4 linked regions of the Homo sapiens genome follow. The protein of the gene in region 1 purifies or fractionates together with the protein of each later gene. This does not show direct contact. Each region holds a gene or a part of one and is shown on either strand. Other genes may lie near its edges.

Region 1 (3,806 bases):
ATGAGGCCAAAGCTGCATTCAGAGGTAAATTAATAGCATTCAAATGCATTTAAAAAAAATTATTAAGTAGCAAACTATTGAAATAAATCAAGTGCTTTCCTGTAGAATTAGAAAAAGGACAATAATATAAATCTACAAAAGTCAGTGGCAGGACTAAGTGAAATTAAAGTCAGAAATTAATGAGTTGGTTAATATATTTTAAACTTTAATGGTAAGTAGATCTAAAAGATAGAAAAGCTCCTGACAAGGCTAATCAAGAGAAAAAAAAATCACGTGGTATTATGAATAAAAAAAGGTACTGTTATGTAAAGTATTTTAGGAAAATACAAATTCATTACAGCATTAAAAATAAACTAAATAATTAAAAAGGTTTTAGTTGCCTTCATTGAAAAGACCAACAACTACAGAAGAAACTGGAAATATATTTTTATTTTTTTTTTGTTTTTTGTGTTATTGTTGTTGAGACAGAGTCTCCCTCTGTCGCCAAGGCTGGAGTGCACTGATGTGACCTCAGCTCGCTACAATCTCTACCTCCCAGGTTCAAGCGGTTCTCCTGCCTCAGCCTCTTGACTAGCTGGGATTATAGGCGCCTGCCACCAGGCCTGGCTAATTTTTGTATTTTTAGTAGAGAGGGGGTTTCACCATGTTGGCCAGGCTGGTCTCAAACTGCTGACCTCATGTGATCCACCTGCCTTGGCCTCCCAAAGTGCTGGGATTACAGATATGAGTCACCGTGCCTAGCCTGGTTTTTACTTTTCTAAGTGGTTGGAAAAAAGTCAAATGAAGAGCCAGGCCATGCTTATCATCCCATCTACTCAGGAGGCTAAGGCAGGAGGATTACTCGAGCTCAGGAGTTCGAAGCTATAGTGAAATGTAATTGCAACTGTGAATTACCACTGCACTGGGGAACATCACGAGAACTCATCTCCAAAAAAAATAAATCAGGCGGGGCGCGGTGGCTTATGCCTGTAATCCCAGCACTTTGGGAGGCTGAGGCAGGCGGATCACCTGAGGTCAGGAGTTCAAGACCAGCCTGGCCAACATGGCGAAACCCTGTCTCTACTAAAAATACAAAAATTAGCCAGGCGTGGTGGCGTGCGCCTGTAGTCCCAGCTACTCAGGAGCCTGAGGCAGGAGAATCACTTGAACCCGGGAGGCGGAGGTTGCTGTGGGCCGAGATCATGCCATTGCACTCCAGCCTGGGCGACAAGAACGAAACTCAGTCTCAAAAAAAAAAAAAAATCAAATGAATAATACTCCTTGACCTTGTGAAGATTCTATGAAGTTCAGATTACAGTGTCCAGAAATTGTTTTGTTTGTTTGTTTTTTTGAGACAGCTTCTCACCCTGTCATCCAAGCTGGAGTGCAGTGGCGCCATCTCAGCTCACTGCAACCTCCACCTCCCGGGTTCAAGTGCTTCTCCTGCCTCAGCCTCCCAAGTAGCTGGGATTACAGGCACCTGCCACCACGCCCAGCTAATTTTTGTATTTTTAGTAGAGACAGGGTTTCACAACATTGGCCAGGCTGGTCTCAAACTCCCAACCTCAAGTGATCCGCCCCCCTCGGCCTCCCAAAGTGCTGGGATTACAGGCATGAACCACCGCACCCGGCCCAGAAAAGTTTTATTGGAACATAGCAACACCCGCTTATGTATATATTGTCTGCAGCTGTTCTGGGGCCAGAACTGCAGAGCTGAGTGGTTGCAATAGAGACTGGATGGTCTGCAGAGCTTAATCTATTGACTCTGGTCTTTTGCTGAAAAAGGGTGCCAACCGCAGTATTAAACAGTTACAGACCAGGCACAGTGGCTCATGCCTGCACTTTGGGAGGCTGAGGCAGGAGGATTGCTTGAGTCTAGGAGTTTGAGACTAGTCTTGGCAACATAGCAAGACCCTGTCTCTACAAAAAATAAAAAATTAGCTGGGCACAGTGCCATGTGCCTGTGGTCCCAGATACTTGGCAGACTGAGGCAAGAGGATCACTTGAGCCTCAGAGATTGAGGCTGCAGTGAGCCTTGATGCCGTCACTGTACTCCAGCCTGGATGACAGCGCAAGACCTTGTCTCAAAAAAAATGCAAATAGTTACAGTGGGCGGGGCATGGTGGCTCAACGTGGGAGTTCAAGACCAGCCTGGCTAATATGGTGAAACCCCGTCTCTACTAAAAATATAAAAAATTAGGCCAGGCGCGGTGGCTAACGCCTGTAATCCCAGCACTTTGGGAGACCTAGGCGGGTGGATCACCTGAGTTCAGGAGTTCTAGACCAGCCTGACCAACATGATGAAACCGTCTCTACCAAAAACAAAAAAATTAGCCAGGTGTGGTGGGAGGCGCCTGTAATCCCAGCTACTTGGGGGGCCGAGGCAGGAGAATTGCTTGAAACCGGGAGGCGGAAGTTGCAGTGAGCCAAGATCGCACCATCACGCCATCACACTCCAGCCTGGGGGATAAGATCGAGAGTTCATCTCAAAAAAAAAAAAAAAAAAAAAAAAAACTTAGCCGAGCGTGGTGGCACTTGCCTGTAATCCCAGCTACTCAGGAGGCTGAGGCAGAAGAATCGCTTGAAACCGGGAGGCGGAGGTTGCCGTGAGCCAAGATCGTACCACTGCACTCCAGCCTGGGAGACAGAGTGAGACTCCATCTCAAAATAAATAAATAAATAAATAAAAATAGTTACAGTGGATAGAAAGGAAGGGACTCTTGTCCCTGCTGTTTGGCACTAGGACAGCTGAGCTGGGCATTGTCACATTTTGAGGATACAAGAGTCTTATTTATCCTTGGTTGGGGAGCCAGGAGAGTGCCGAGGGGCGGTGCCTGGGCCGCAGGCAGGGCCTTACTCTTCTGCCCTCTTCTTCAGCGCATTTTGGAGGACCAGGAGGAAAACCCGCTGCCCGCCGCCCTGGTCCAGCCCCACACCGGGAAACTGTGCTGGTTCTTGGACGAGGCGGCCGCCCGCCTCCTGACCGTGCCCTTCGAGAAGCATTCCACTTTGTAGCTGGCCAGAGGGACGCCGCAGCTGGGACCAGGCACGCGGCCCATGGGGCTGGGCCCCTGCTGGCCGCCACTCTCCGGGCTCTCCTTTCAAAAAGCCACGTCGTGCTGCTGCTGGAAGCCAACAGCCTCCGGCCAGCAGCCCTACCCGGGGCTCAACACACAGGCTGTGGCTCTGGACATCCGGATATTAAAAGGAGCGTTGCTGGAAGTCTGCACTGTCTCGCGGTGTTTGATGGCAGCAGGCCTGGGGGCGCCCTGGCCTGGGTTCTGATCCATAGCCCTCATCTGTGGGGAGGAAGGCGGGGCCTGCTTCCCTGGGGCATAGCCACCATGGATGAATTTCCTAAGACAACAGGCTGGGCACAGTGGCTCACGCCTGTCATCCCAGCACTTCGGGAGGATGAGGTGGGCAAATCACTTGAGGTCAGGAGTTCGAGACTAGCCTGGCCAACATAGTGAAATCTCTTCTCTACTAAAAATACAAAAATTAGCTGGGCGCGGTGGCTCACACCTGTAATCCCAGCACTTTGGGAGGCCGAGGCTGGTGGATCACGAGGTCGGGAGTTCGAGACCATCCTGGCTAACACAGTGAAACCCCGTCTCTACTAAAAATACAAAAAAAAATTAGCTGGGCATAGGTGGTGCACGCCTGTAGTCCCAGCTACTTGGGAGGCTGAGGCAGGAGAATGGCATAAAACCCAGGAGGCGAAGCTTGCAGTGAGCTGAGATCGCACCACTGCACTCCAACCTGGGAGATACAGCGAGACTCCATCTCGAAAAAAAAAAAAAATACAAAAATTAGCCGGGCGTAGT
Region 2 (3,806 bases), on another chromosome or scaffold:
TAATGAATATCTGTGAAATGACATAGAAGTGAAATAGGTGAATAAATCATCTTGATAAGGCAGCCACACCTAATACTTAGAAAATCTCGTAAGCTTAATTTTAGAGTAAGAATTTAGAATCTAGCTCTTTGGTTTTGAAGCTAAATTAAATCCTATTAAGATCAATACTAATTTGCTTCTTGTTTGAATGCCCTATTCTGAATACCAGTAATCAGTATAAACAGGGAATATTAAAAGGAATATTTTGAGGGAATGCTCAAAAACCAGTTTCAAACCTATGAGGATCAGATGGGCCAGCAGGGCTTCTTGACAGACCAGCATTGGGAGAGTTGTTTCACAAGAGAATATGTTGGCATGGTGTGAACACCAAGGGGAGGGACAAGAGGTCCCCAAAAGCCTCCTGGTCATGGAACATCTGGAGCTGGATTCTGAAAGATAGAGTATGTCAGCTGTGGAGGAAGATTCTAAGAACGCAATGGCAGAAGCTTGAGAATGAAGACTAGGTGGGTGGGCCCTGGATGGGAAGGACGAGGCGGCCTATGTTTCAACACCTCCCGTGACAGGAACTTCATTTCATTTCATTGTCTCTTGCCACCTACTCCCATGGCCCTTTTGATCTGACCTCATTCTCTTCTGGCTCCACCTGTTAGAGGATATAGGGGAGCAGACACCCTCATATGCTGCTGGTGGGAAATCTGAATTGCTTTTTTTTTTTTTTTTTTTTTTTTTTTTTGAGATGGAGTGCAGTGGTGCAATCTCGGCTTACTGCAACCTCCACCCCCTGGGTTCAAGCGATTCTCCTGCCTCAGCCTCCCGAGTAGCTGGGACTACAGGTGTGCGCCACCACACCCAGCTAATTTTTGTATTTTTAGTAGAGATGGGGTTTCACCATGTTGGCCAGATGGTTTCGATATCTTGACCTCGTGATCTGCCTACCTCGGCCTCCCAAAGTGCTGGGATTACAGGCGTGAGCCACCATGCCAGGCCCTAAATTGCTTTAATTCATCGAAAAGTAACTGGGGGCTAGGCACAGTGGCTCATGCCTGTAATCCCAGCATTTTGGGAGGCCGAGGAGGGAGGATCCCTTGATCTCAGGAATTTGAGACCAGCCTCAGCAACATAAGGGAGGCCGTGTGTCTACAAAAAGTAAAAAAAAAATTAGGTGGGCATAGTGGTGCACTCCTGTGGGCCCAGCTACTCTGGAGGCTCAGGTGGGAGGACCACTTGAGCCCAGGAGGGCGAGGCTGCCATGAGCTGTGATGGCACCACTGCACATCAGCCTGAGCAACACAGCAAAACCGTGTCTCAAAAAATTAAAAAAGCAGCTAGGTACATATCTTTACAAGTTTAAAATACGCTTAGCCTTTGACCAGCAACTCTGCTATTAGCAATCTATGCCATAGAAGTGTTTTATTTGTTTTGTTTATGTTTGTTTGAGGCAGGGTCTGTGCTGCTTACATTACAGTATTGTTTAATTCCTGACCCCTGGTGGTTCACAGGTGAAGGTTGTCATCCTGGGACAGGATCCATATCATGGACCTAATCAAGCTCACGGGCTCTGCTTTAGTGTTCAAAGGCCTGTTCCGCCTCCGCCCAGGTACAGTTGCTTTACAGGTGACTGCAGTCCAGACATGATTCCTTTCAGATGTGTACTTAGCTTATTACAAGTGGGACTATCTGGGGCACTGTTCACTAGCCTTGGAGGAGGATTTCTCGGCCTCAGCACCATTGACATTTGGGGCTGAGTCATTCTTTGTTGTGGAGGAGGAGAGGAGTCCTGTGCTATTGCAGGATCTTGTGCCACATCCCTGGCCTCTACCACTGGAAACCAGGAGCAACCCCCAGCTCGTGATAATGAAAAATGTGCAGACATTGCCAAAAGTCCCTTGGGGGCGTAAAATCACCCCTGGTTAAGAACCACTGCTTTGGGCCGGGCGCGGTGACTCACGCCTGTAATCCCAGCACTTTGGGAGGCTGAGGCAGGAGAATCGCTGGATCCCGGGAGGCGGAGGTGGCAGTGAGCCGAGATCCTGCTACTGCACTCTAGCCTGGGTGACACAGCAAGACTGGAAAAAAAAAAAAAAGAACCACTGCTTTTGGAGGATTTGGTGTATGATATACATAAATATGCTAAGGACAGAAAACTGTCCCTGAGCAACAGTGGGGGTCTGGGTTGTAACTGCTGGGTTGATTTACTTAGGTTTTCCAGAGTGCTGTTAAATCCAAGTACAGACTAAAGTAAAGGTCTTTGGCAGAGTCACCTGTTAGAAGGAGGACTGGCAGTGTTGATCTCATTAATCGGCGCCATATGTGCCAGTGTCCCTTCCAAGGGCTGGCTGTAACTTCTAACCTTTTCACATATGTCTTAGACGTTACTGAGCTTTCAAAATTATGCTTAAGATTCTGTTTTTTGTTTTTCTTGTGGCTTGCTTTCAGTTTGGAGAACATTTATAAAGAGTTGTCTACAGACATAGAGGATTTTGTTCATCCTGGCCATGGAGATTTATCTGGGTGGGCCAAGCAAGGTAAGCCAGCGACTGCTAGATTTTTTTTTTTTTTTTTTTTTTGAGACCGAGTCTCACTCTGTTGCCCAGGCTAGAGTGCAGTGGTGCAATCTCAGCTTACTGCAACCTCTGCCTCCCAGGTTCAGGCGATTCTCATGCCTCAGCCTCCTGAGTAGCTGGGACCACAGGCATGAGCCACCATAGCTGGCTAATTTTTTAATGTATTTTTAGTAGAGACAGGGTTTCACCATGTTGGCCAGGCTGGTCTCGAACTCCTGACCTCAGGTGATCCGCCCGACTCGGCTTCCCAAAGTGCTGGGATTACAGGCATAAGCCACCACGCCCAGCCCCGACTCCATTGTTGATGGTAGTGGCTGCTGCCATTATGCCGGCTGCAGCAGGGAAGCACAGCTTGCTACACTGGATCCCATCAAGCATTGGTTTCATCATGGATTTAGCTCCTGTTGCTGGGTATTGGGCTGATTTGCCTGAGCCTACATTTAACCTGTTTCTCTCATGTGTATAGGTGTTCTCCTTCTCAACGCTGTCCTCACGGTTCGTGCCCATCAAGCCAACTCTCATAAGGAGCGAGGCTGGGAGCAGTTCACTGATGCAGTTGTGTCCTGGCTAAATCAGAACTCGAATGGCCTTGTTTTCTTGCTCTGGGGCTCTTATGCTCAGAAGAAGGGCAGTGCCATTGATAGGGTATGTTTTGTTTTCTTTCTTTTTTTTCTTTTTTTTTTAACACTATAAAAACAATGTAAAGAATTCTAGGAGTCCCTGCTGTGTTTGGTCCTGGAAAATCCATGTTATAAAATAACTTTTATTTTCCCTTAGGCCTGTTATAAGGGTTTCCCATTGAAAACTGAGAAGAATTTGGACAAATTATAGGGGTGATGAGTTGTGTATGAGGAAAGCAAAGCAACTGGCCAACTTGTGACTGAATGCAGTTGGTGCTGTAGGCATGAACTTGGTGTCTACAAGATACAAGTCCCTGGGTACCATTCACTTAACAAGTGATGGATGAGGCATGTTTCTGGCTTCCAAGAAATTTGGGAACATATAGAAAACACAAAGAATTCCACTCAATCACAAATTTAACTTGCCCATGAAAATACTATCAGTGATCATTATTGTTTTGTTTCTGGGTTTTTTGTTTTTTGATGGAGTCTCGCTCTGTTGCCCAGGCTGTAGTGCAGTGGTATGATTTTGGCTCACTGCAACCTCCGCCTGCTGGGTTTAAGTGATTCTGCCTCAGCCTCCCGAGTAGCTGGGACTACAGGCGCCCGCCACCACACCCGG
Region 3 (3,806 bases), on another chromosome or scaffold:
AACACACCACCACTACATCCATGTTCCAGGACGGGTGGCTGAGGCTGTACTTAGTCCCACCCAGCAAATTCCCCCACCTACTCCTTGCTTCAGTACCGTGTATTATAGCTATTTAGATGACTTCTCCCTCACCACCCTAAAAGCTCTTCCACAGACAGGGCCCTTGTCTTAGAGCTCTGTGAACACACTCATGACACAGTGAGTGCTTATAAATACCACAACCACAGATGCCCTGCAGAAGGTCAAGGAGCCCGGCTACAAGGAACTAAAGAAGTGTGGCATACAAGAAAATTAACCAGGTGTGGTGGCGCATGCCTCTGGTCCCAGCTACTTGGGAGGCTGAGGCAGGAGAATTGCTTGAGCCCCAGAGGCAAAGGTTGCAGTGAGCAGAGATCGTGTCACTCACTGCACTCCAGCTTGGGCTACAGAGTGAGACTCCTTCTCAAAAAAAAAAAAAAAAAAAAGAAGATATGTGGCAGGGACAGGGCGGGGGTTTTAAAGGAACTCTAGATACCTCTTTGGTAAGTCCCACAAATGCCCACAGAATTAAAGCTCCCAATCAGAAACCATCTCAATCTCTCCAGGGGGAAAGCAGAAATACTCACCAGGCCTCAATTCACCAAGGGCCTAGACTTGAATATTTCATGATAAAAATAAATACTGCAAATATAACTCTAAAGCTCACTTCCCCAATGTTGTCCTTAGAGAATTAAAAAACTAAACCAAAAGATTCATTTCTACCTCTTCCCCCAACTCTTTTAAAACAGTATTGAAAGGGTTTTCTTGGCCAGGCGCAGTGGCTCACGCCTGTAATCTCAATATTTTGGGAAGCTGGGGCAGCTGGACCACTTGAGGTCAGGAGTTGGAGACCAGCTTTGCCAACAGGGTGAGACCCTGTCTCTACTAAAACAAAAAATACAAAAATTAGCTGGGCATGGTGGTGCGTGCCTGTGATCCCAGCTACTTGGGAGGCTGGGGCAAAAGAACTGCTTGAACCCAGGAGGTGGAGGTTGCAGTGAGATCATGCCACTGCATCCAGACTGAGCAACAGAGCGAGACTCTATCTTGAAAAAAAGGTTTCCTTGAACAACTACCACTTACCTGCTATCTGGGGAGATGATGGGAGGAACAAGCAATTTTCACAACTGGTTTGGTTTTTTTTTTGAGACAGAGTCTCGCTCTGTTGCCCAGGCTGGAGTGCAGCAGCGTGATCTCGGCTCACTGCATCCTCTGCTTCCTGAGTTCAAGCGATTCTTCTGCCTCAGCCTCCCAAGTAGCTGGGACTACAGGCGCACACCACCATGCCCGGCTCATATCTGTATTTTTAGTAGAGACGGGGTTTCACTACATTGGCCACACTGTTCTCAAACTCCTGACCTCGTGATCCACCCATCTCGGCCTCCCAAAGTGCTGGGATTACAGGCGTGAGCCACTGTGCCCGGCCACAACTGGTCTTTTTTAAACGTATGAGCTAAGGATAAAGGCTGGGGTGATGGATGCCGCGGGCCATCTGCAGGGGCTGGAGACAGAAATGAATATTCACCAAGTGCCTCTACCCTGCACTGGATTTGCCCCAAGTACTTTATCCACACAATCCCACGACTACCCTGTGAGGCAGAAGGCATTGTGCCCATTTAATGGATGAGGAAACTGAAGCTCTGGAATGCTAACTGTTTTGCCCAGGGTCACGCAGCAAGGTGGAATTCCAGGCCTGGCTCCAAAGCTGGTGCCCCTTCCTCTGGCCCAGGTGCTGCAGAATAAAACTAAAGAGGTCGGGTGCGGTGGCTCACGCCTGTAATCCCAGCACTTTGGGAGGCCGAGGCAGGTGGATCACAAGGTCAGGAGATTGAGACCATCCTGGCTAACACCGTGAAACCCCATCTCTACTAAAAAAAAAAATACAAAAAATTAGCTGGGCGTGGTGGCGGGTGCCTGTAGTCCCAGCTACGCAGGAGGCTGAGGCAGGAGAATGGCGTGAACCCGGGAGGCGGAGCTTGAACTGAGTGGAGATCGCGCCACTGCACTCCAGCCTGGGAGACAGAGCCAGACTCCGTCTCAAAAAAATAAATAAATAAATAAATAAATAAATAAATAAATAATATGGAAACCATTCTCCCTACCTTTAATTTACTTGGGAGGCTGAGGCAGGAGACTCGCTTGAACCTGATTCTCCTGCCTCAGTCTCCCAAGTAAATGGGATTACAGGTACACGCCACCATGCCCAGTTAATTTTTTGTATTTTAGTAGAGACAGAGTTTCACCATGTTGGCCAGGCTGGTCTTGAACTCCTGACCCCAAGTGATCCACCCACCTCGGCCTCCCAAAGTCCTGGGATTACAGCCGTGAGCTACCATGCCTGGCCCATTCTCCCTACCTTTCAAGACTTCCAAAATGAAGATATTCTACAAGGGGAAAATCTGTCCCTACTCTCAATCTTAGAAATGGCCTATTCCTAAAATAATATCAGAAACTATTTGCAGTGTGTGTGTTTTTTTGTTTTTTTGTTTTGTTTTGTTTTTGAGACAGAGTCTCGCTCTGTTGCCCAAGCTGGAGTACAGTGGCGCAATCTCGGCTCATTGCAAGCTCTGCCTCCCAGGTTCAAGCGATTCTCGTACCTCAGCCTCCCGAGTAGCTGGGTCTACAGGCGACCACCCACACACCCAGCTAATTTTTTTCTATTTTTAGTAGAGATGGAGTTTCACCATGTTGGTCAGGCTGGTCTCAAACTCCTGACCTCAGGTGATCTGCCTGCCTTGGCCTCCCAAAATGCTGGGATTACAGGTGTGAGCCACTGCGTCTGGCCTTTTTTTTTTTTTTTTTTAAGACAGAGTTTCATTCTTGTTGCCCAGGCTGGAGTGCAATGGCACAATCTTAACTCAGTACAACCTCCGCCTCCCAGGTTCAAACGATTCTCCTGTCTTAGCCCACAAAGTAACTGAGATTACAGGCATGCGCCACCACACCTGACTAATTTTGTATTTTAAGTACAGACGGGGTTTCACCATGTTGGTCAGGCTGGTCTTGAGCTCCTGACCTCAGGTGATCCACCTGCCTTGGGCTCCCAAAGTGCTGGGATTACAGGCATGAGGCACCACACCCGGCTCACAATGCTTTATAACACATCAAACAGAGTCAAAACAACTTTTCAAATATTAGGCCTTCAGAACCCTTCTTAACTGAAGGGTAGTTATTAATTACACTGTTTTGCAGATGTGTAACTAACTGCAGGACCACAGAGAGTTGAGACTTTGCCCGAAGCTACCCAGTAAGCCAGTGGCAGAAGTCTCCTAAGGCTCCTGAGGGTCCATCTGCTGCTTTTTTTTTTTTTTTTGAGACAGAGTTTCACCCTGTTGCCCAGGCTGGAGTGCAGTGGCGCGATCTCGGCTCACTGCAACCTCCACCTCCTGGGTTCAGCTGATTCTCCTGCCTCAGCCTCCTGAGTAGCTGGGATCACAGGCATGCGCCACCACGACTGGCTAATTTTTTTTTTGTATTTTTAGTAAAGATGGGGTTTCACCATATTGGCCAGGCTGGTCTCGAACTCCTGAGCTTGTGATCCACCCACCTCAGCCTCCCAAAGTGCTGGGATTACAGGCGTGAGCCACCACGTCCGGCCCATTTGCTGCTTTTTAAAGGCTACAAGAAGTCTCTCTACAATACCTTCCTTCCTTCATGCTGAGAGGCCCAGAGCCCACCACTGCCTTCCAAACCAGGTGCTGGGAAAACGAGGCAAGTCAAAGAAAGCTGGAGCCAAGGAAGACTCAACACTCTCTTCCCACTAGCCAGGCACAGTGGCTCGCGCCTAT
Region 4 (3,262 bases), on another chromosome or scaffold:
ATAGTCTTAATTATCTGGTAGTTAAGTAATCTGTTTGGTAATCCTTTCATAGTATTTTCCATAAAAGAATATTCTCTTGCTGATTGTAAGACCATTTGCTTGAGATCCCATGGTGCTCATTAGAAGTGACGGAAGCACCGCTAGTAGATATCACTGTTGTTTGGCTAGCCTAGGATTCTATATCTGAATAGAGTACCAGGGAATTAATTATGAAAGACCTTGGTATTTGCATTCTATGATATGAGATATCAAATATCACATATCTCATGGGAGAAGTGGGGAAATGCACTTTTCTTTATAACTAAAAAACTGCCACTAAAGTTAATTTGATTTTATTTATCTGGGAAACAAACATCTGTGGAAATTTGGTGCACTTACTACTACTTTCTCAAATTTAATGTGCTTCAAAAACATATGATGGAAAACATGCCAAATCAATGACATCATGTTATTCTAATCCTTTTTAAAATTTATTTGGCATAAAGGATGTACTTAGGTGCAATTTTTTTATTTTTATTTTTGAGATATAAAACAAATGCCACATTAGTCATCAGTTTTCCATGTTTTTAAATAAATAAACTGTGAAAGATCTCATTGAACAGAACTCACTCCCTTATTACCATCGCTTTAAACAGTTGGAGAAGGAATTTGTGTAAAAACCACTTGAAAGTAACTTGTAGACATGATGACGTTTGTCTTCTAAATACACATTTCAGCGTGTGTGTCTTTAATAAAAGGGACATTGTCTAACATAGCCACAGTACAATGATAAAAGTAAGGGAATTAACATGGATACATAATCTAATATAAGACTTTATTCAAATTTTGAAAATTTTAATCCAACATCCAGTCTAGAGTCATGTATTGCATTTAGTTGTCATTTCTCATCAATTTCCTTTAATTTAGAACTTGCTTAGTCTTTGTCTTTTATCACCTTGACATTTTTCAGAAGTATAGGCCAATTATTTTGTAGTCTGTCTCTTGAATTTGAATTTGTCTGGTTTCCTCATGATTATATTTGGATCATGGATTTTTGGCAGGAATGCCGCAAAAGTAATGTTCTGTCCTTCTCAGTGCATTTTATCAGGCACATTTCTTTTTGTCCCATTATGAGTGATATTAACTTGGATAACTTGGTAATGGTAGACCATTGTAAAGATGCTATTTTTCCATTGTACTTATTATGTATCTTGTGGAGAGACACTTTGACACTCTGTAAATTATCAGACTCACCCATTAATTTTAACATTGATTCTTTACTGAATAAATTATTACTATAATTGCTATCAAGTGTATTTATATTCAACTTAACTTGTATTCAAGGAAGAGGTGCTATGAGAGGGCAAACCTGCAGTAATTTTCCAAGGCAGGCTTAGGTCTTTGCAGAGCCTGGCATGCTGTTGTTGCTTTAGGCACATGTATGACGCACACCCAGTTGAAAATGACCCATACCATGATATTTTACACCTCCTAGAGACTATTTGCATTGTGGGTATGTGTATATGTGTGTAAAATAATATAAGCTTTAGTAGCTGGATTTAGACAAATATTAATATACTTGCATTTCATTATTGTAGAATTAAGCATTGTCTTTATTTTTTATGAAAAATTATTGTTTTAATGTTTATCTTATTAAATTATTGCTTTGTGAGGGTTTTGTGATTTATATAATATACGATGATAATTAGATTTATACATATTTTTATTTTACAATTAGATATCACCTCTTAAAATCTTTATCCTCTAGATCGTTCCAAGTTTCTTCAATCGACACTTAAAGTGAAGTTAAGGAGGAATATCTTACTTGAAAGGATTATTTTTTCCAATTTTATTTCTAAATTCTATTTGTTAGGATCCGGAGTGTTGGAACAGCAGCTGTTAATATGTGCCTTGTGGCAACTGGCGGAGCAGATGCATATTATGAAATGGGAATTCACTGCTGGGATGTTGCAGGAGCTGGCATTATTGTTACTGAAGCTGGTGGCGTGCTAATGGATGTTACAGGTAAAATTATGGAGAGTGAAGCAGATCTCCACACATCTGTTGGACTTTTGTCCATATGTAGAATTTAAAAAACTTTTTGATATATGTTATACTGCAGTTTTTGAAGCAGAAACAAGCTATATAATTGTGTGCAAAATCAAAATAAGCTTTAGGAGATAGAGGTAAGGATAAGAGGTAATGGTAATGTGAGACTTACAATGATAAATGGCTAATCCTTTTCTAGTGTGAGTTTCAGGTACTCCTGAAAGGCTGTAGAAAAAGCCTAGACCAAGTTTGTCCAACCTGCAGTCCATGGGCCACATGTGGCTCAGGATGGCTTTGAATGTGGCCCAACACAACTTTGTAAACTTTCTTAAAACATAATGAGTTTTTTGCGATTAAAAAAATTTTTTTTAGCTCATCAGCCGTCATTAGTGCTAGTGTATTTTATGTGTGGCCCAAGACAATTCTTATTCTTCCAGTGTGGCCCAGGGAAGCCAAAATATTCGACACCCTTGGCCTAGACAGTCACCGAGTCTGAGGCTTATACCCAGAGCTCTTTGAATGGTGACAATGGTGATAGTTGATGATGGACTTCCTCCACCATCACTTTCTGTGTTGAGACTAGAGAAGTTAAATAATTGCTTTCAACTGATGGTGAAAATTTTAAACCGAAGGGTGAATCTGTGCTGAAAGAATTCACCAGTGATCTGGGAGAAAGGCAACAAAGAAATAAGGAAATGGGAAGGACAGTGGTATGAAAATGCATTGGATTCACATTTTCTGTCCATAGATTCTTAAACAATAAAGAGGTAATAAGAATGCACAAAAATAGAGAAAATATGACATTTTCTAACTGGTATGACTTCATTATTTACTCAAAAATTATGCTTAGAAACAGTTATATATTGTCTAAGCTTATACATTGTAGAAATGTAACAGTAGATTTTTGTTTAAGAAAACTGAAAGTATTAAAATGTTATGTGACCATAGTACATATTGCTATACTTGTTTTATATGAATTATTTTTGTACCAGATAAAATTATTTTTCATACTTGTTTGCTTTTAGGTGGACCATTTGATTTGATGTCACGAAGAGTAATTGCTGCAAATAATAGAATATTAGCAGAAAGGATAGCTAAAGAAATTCAGGTTATACCTTTGCAACGAGACGACGAAGATTAATTAAGGCAGCCTCATAGTCAATCCCAGTTGCTTTTCCCCAGATTTGGTGACTCATCAATGGATATGTGTTTTGGATGTATGATATGCTTGGTT

What was found. Proteins that work in one complex are often made in the same cells at the same time.
Region 2: the proteins of PGLS (region 1) and UNG fractionate together in Homo sapiens (co-fractionation; one large-scale study listed by BioGRID). This does not show direct contact.
Region 3: the proteins of PGLS (region 1) and ACO2 fractionate together in Homo sapiens (co-fractionation; one large-scale study listed by BioGRID). This does not show direct contact.
Region 4: the proteins of PGLS (region 1) and IMPA1 fractionate together in Homo sapiens (co-fractionation; one large-scale study listed by BioGRID). This does not show direct contact.

Annotation. Positions count from the first base shown.
Region 1 is NC_000019.10:17,518,088-17,521,893, forward strand, and holds the end of PGLS (6-phosphogluconolactonase), read left to right. Parts: intron 1-2,856; coding exon 2,857-2,994; 3' UTR 2,995-3,201; downstream 3,202-3,806. UniProt on the Homo sapiens protein: Hydrolysis of 6-phosphogluconolactone to 6-phosphogluconate.
Region 2 is NC_000012.12:109,100,403-109,104,208, forward strand, and holds part of UNG (uracil-DNA glycosylase), read left to right. Parts: intron 1-1,499; coding exon 1,500-1,597; intron 1,598-2,436; coding exon 2,437-2,525; intron 2,526-3,030; coding exon 3,031-3,209; intron 3,210-3,806. UniProt on the Homo sapiens protein: Uracil-DNA glycosylase that hydrolyzes the N-glycosidic bond between uracil and deoxyribose in single- and double-stranded DNA (ssDNA and dsDNA) to release a free uracil residue and form an abasic (apurinic/apyrimidinic; AP) site.
Region 3 is NC_000022.11:41,475,423-41,479,228, reverse strand, and holds part of ACO2 (aconitate hydratase, mitochondrial precursor), read right to left. Parts: intron 1-3,806. UniProt on the Homo sapiens protein: Catalyzes the isomerization of citrate to isocitrate via cis-aconitate.
Region 4 is NC_000008.11:81,659,258-81,662,519, reverse strand, and holds part of IMPA1 (inositol monophosphatase 1), read left to right. Parts: intron 1-1,852; coding exon 1,853-2,004; intron 2,005-3,053; coding exon 3,054-3,169; 3' UTR 3,170-3,262. UniProt on the Homo sapiens protein: Phosphatase involved in the dephosphorylation of myo-inositol monophosphates to generate myo-inositol. Is also able to dephosphorylate scyllo-inositol-phosphate, myo-inositol 1,4-diphosphate, scyllo-inositol-1,3-diphosphate and scyllo-inositol-1,4-diphosphate.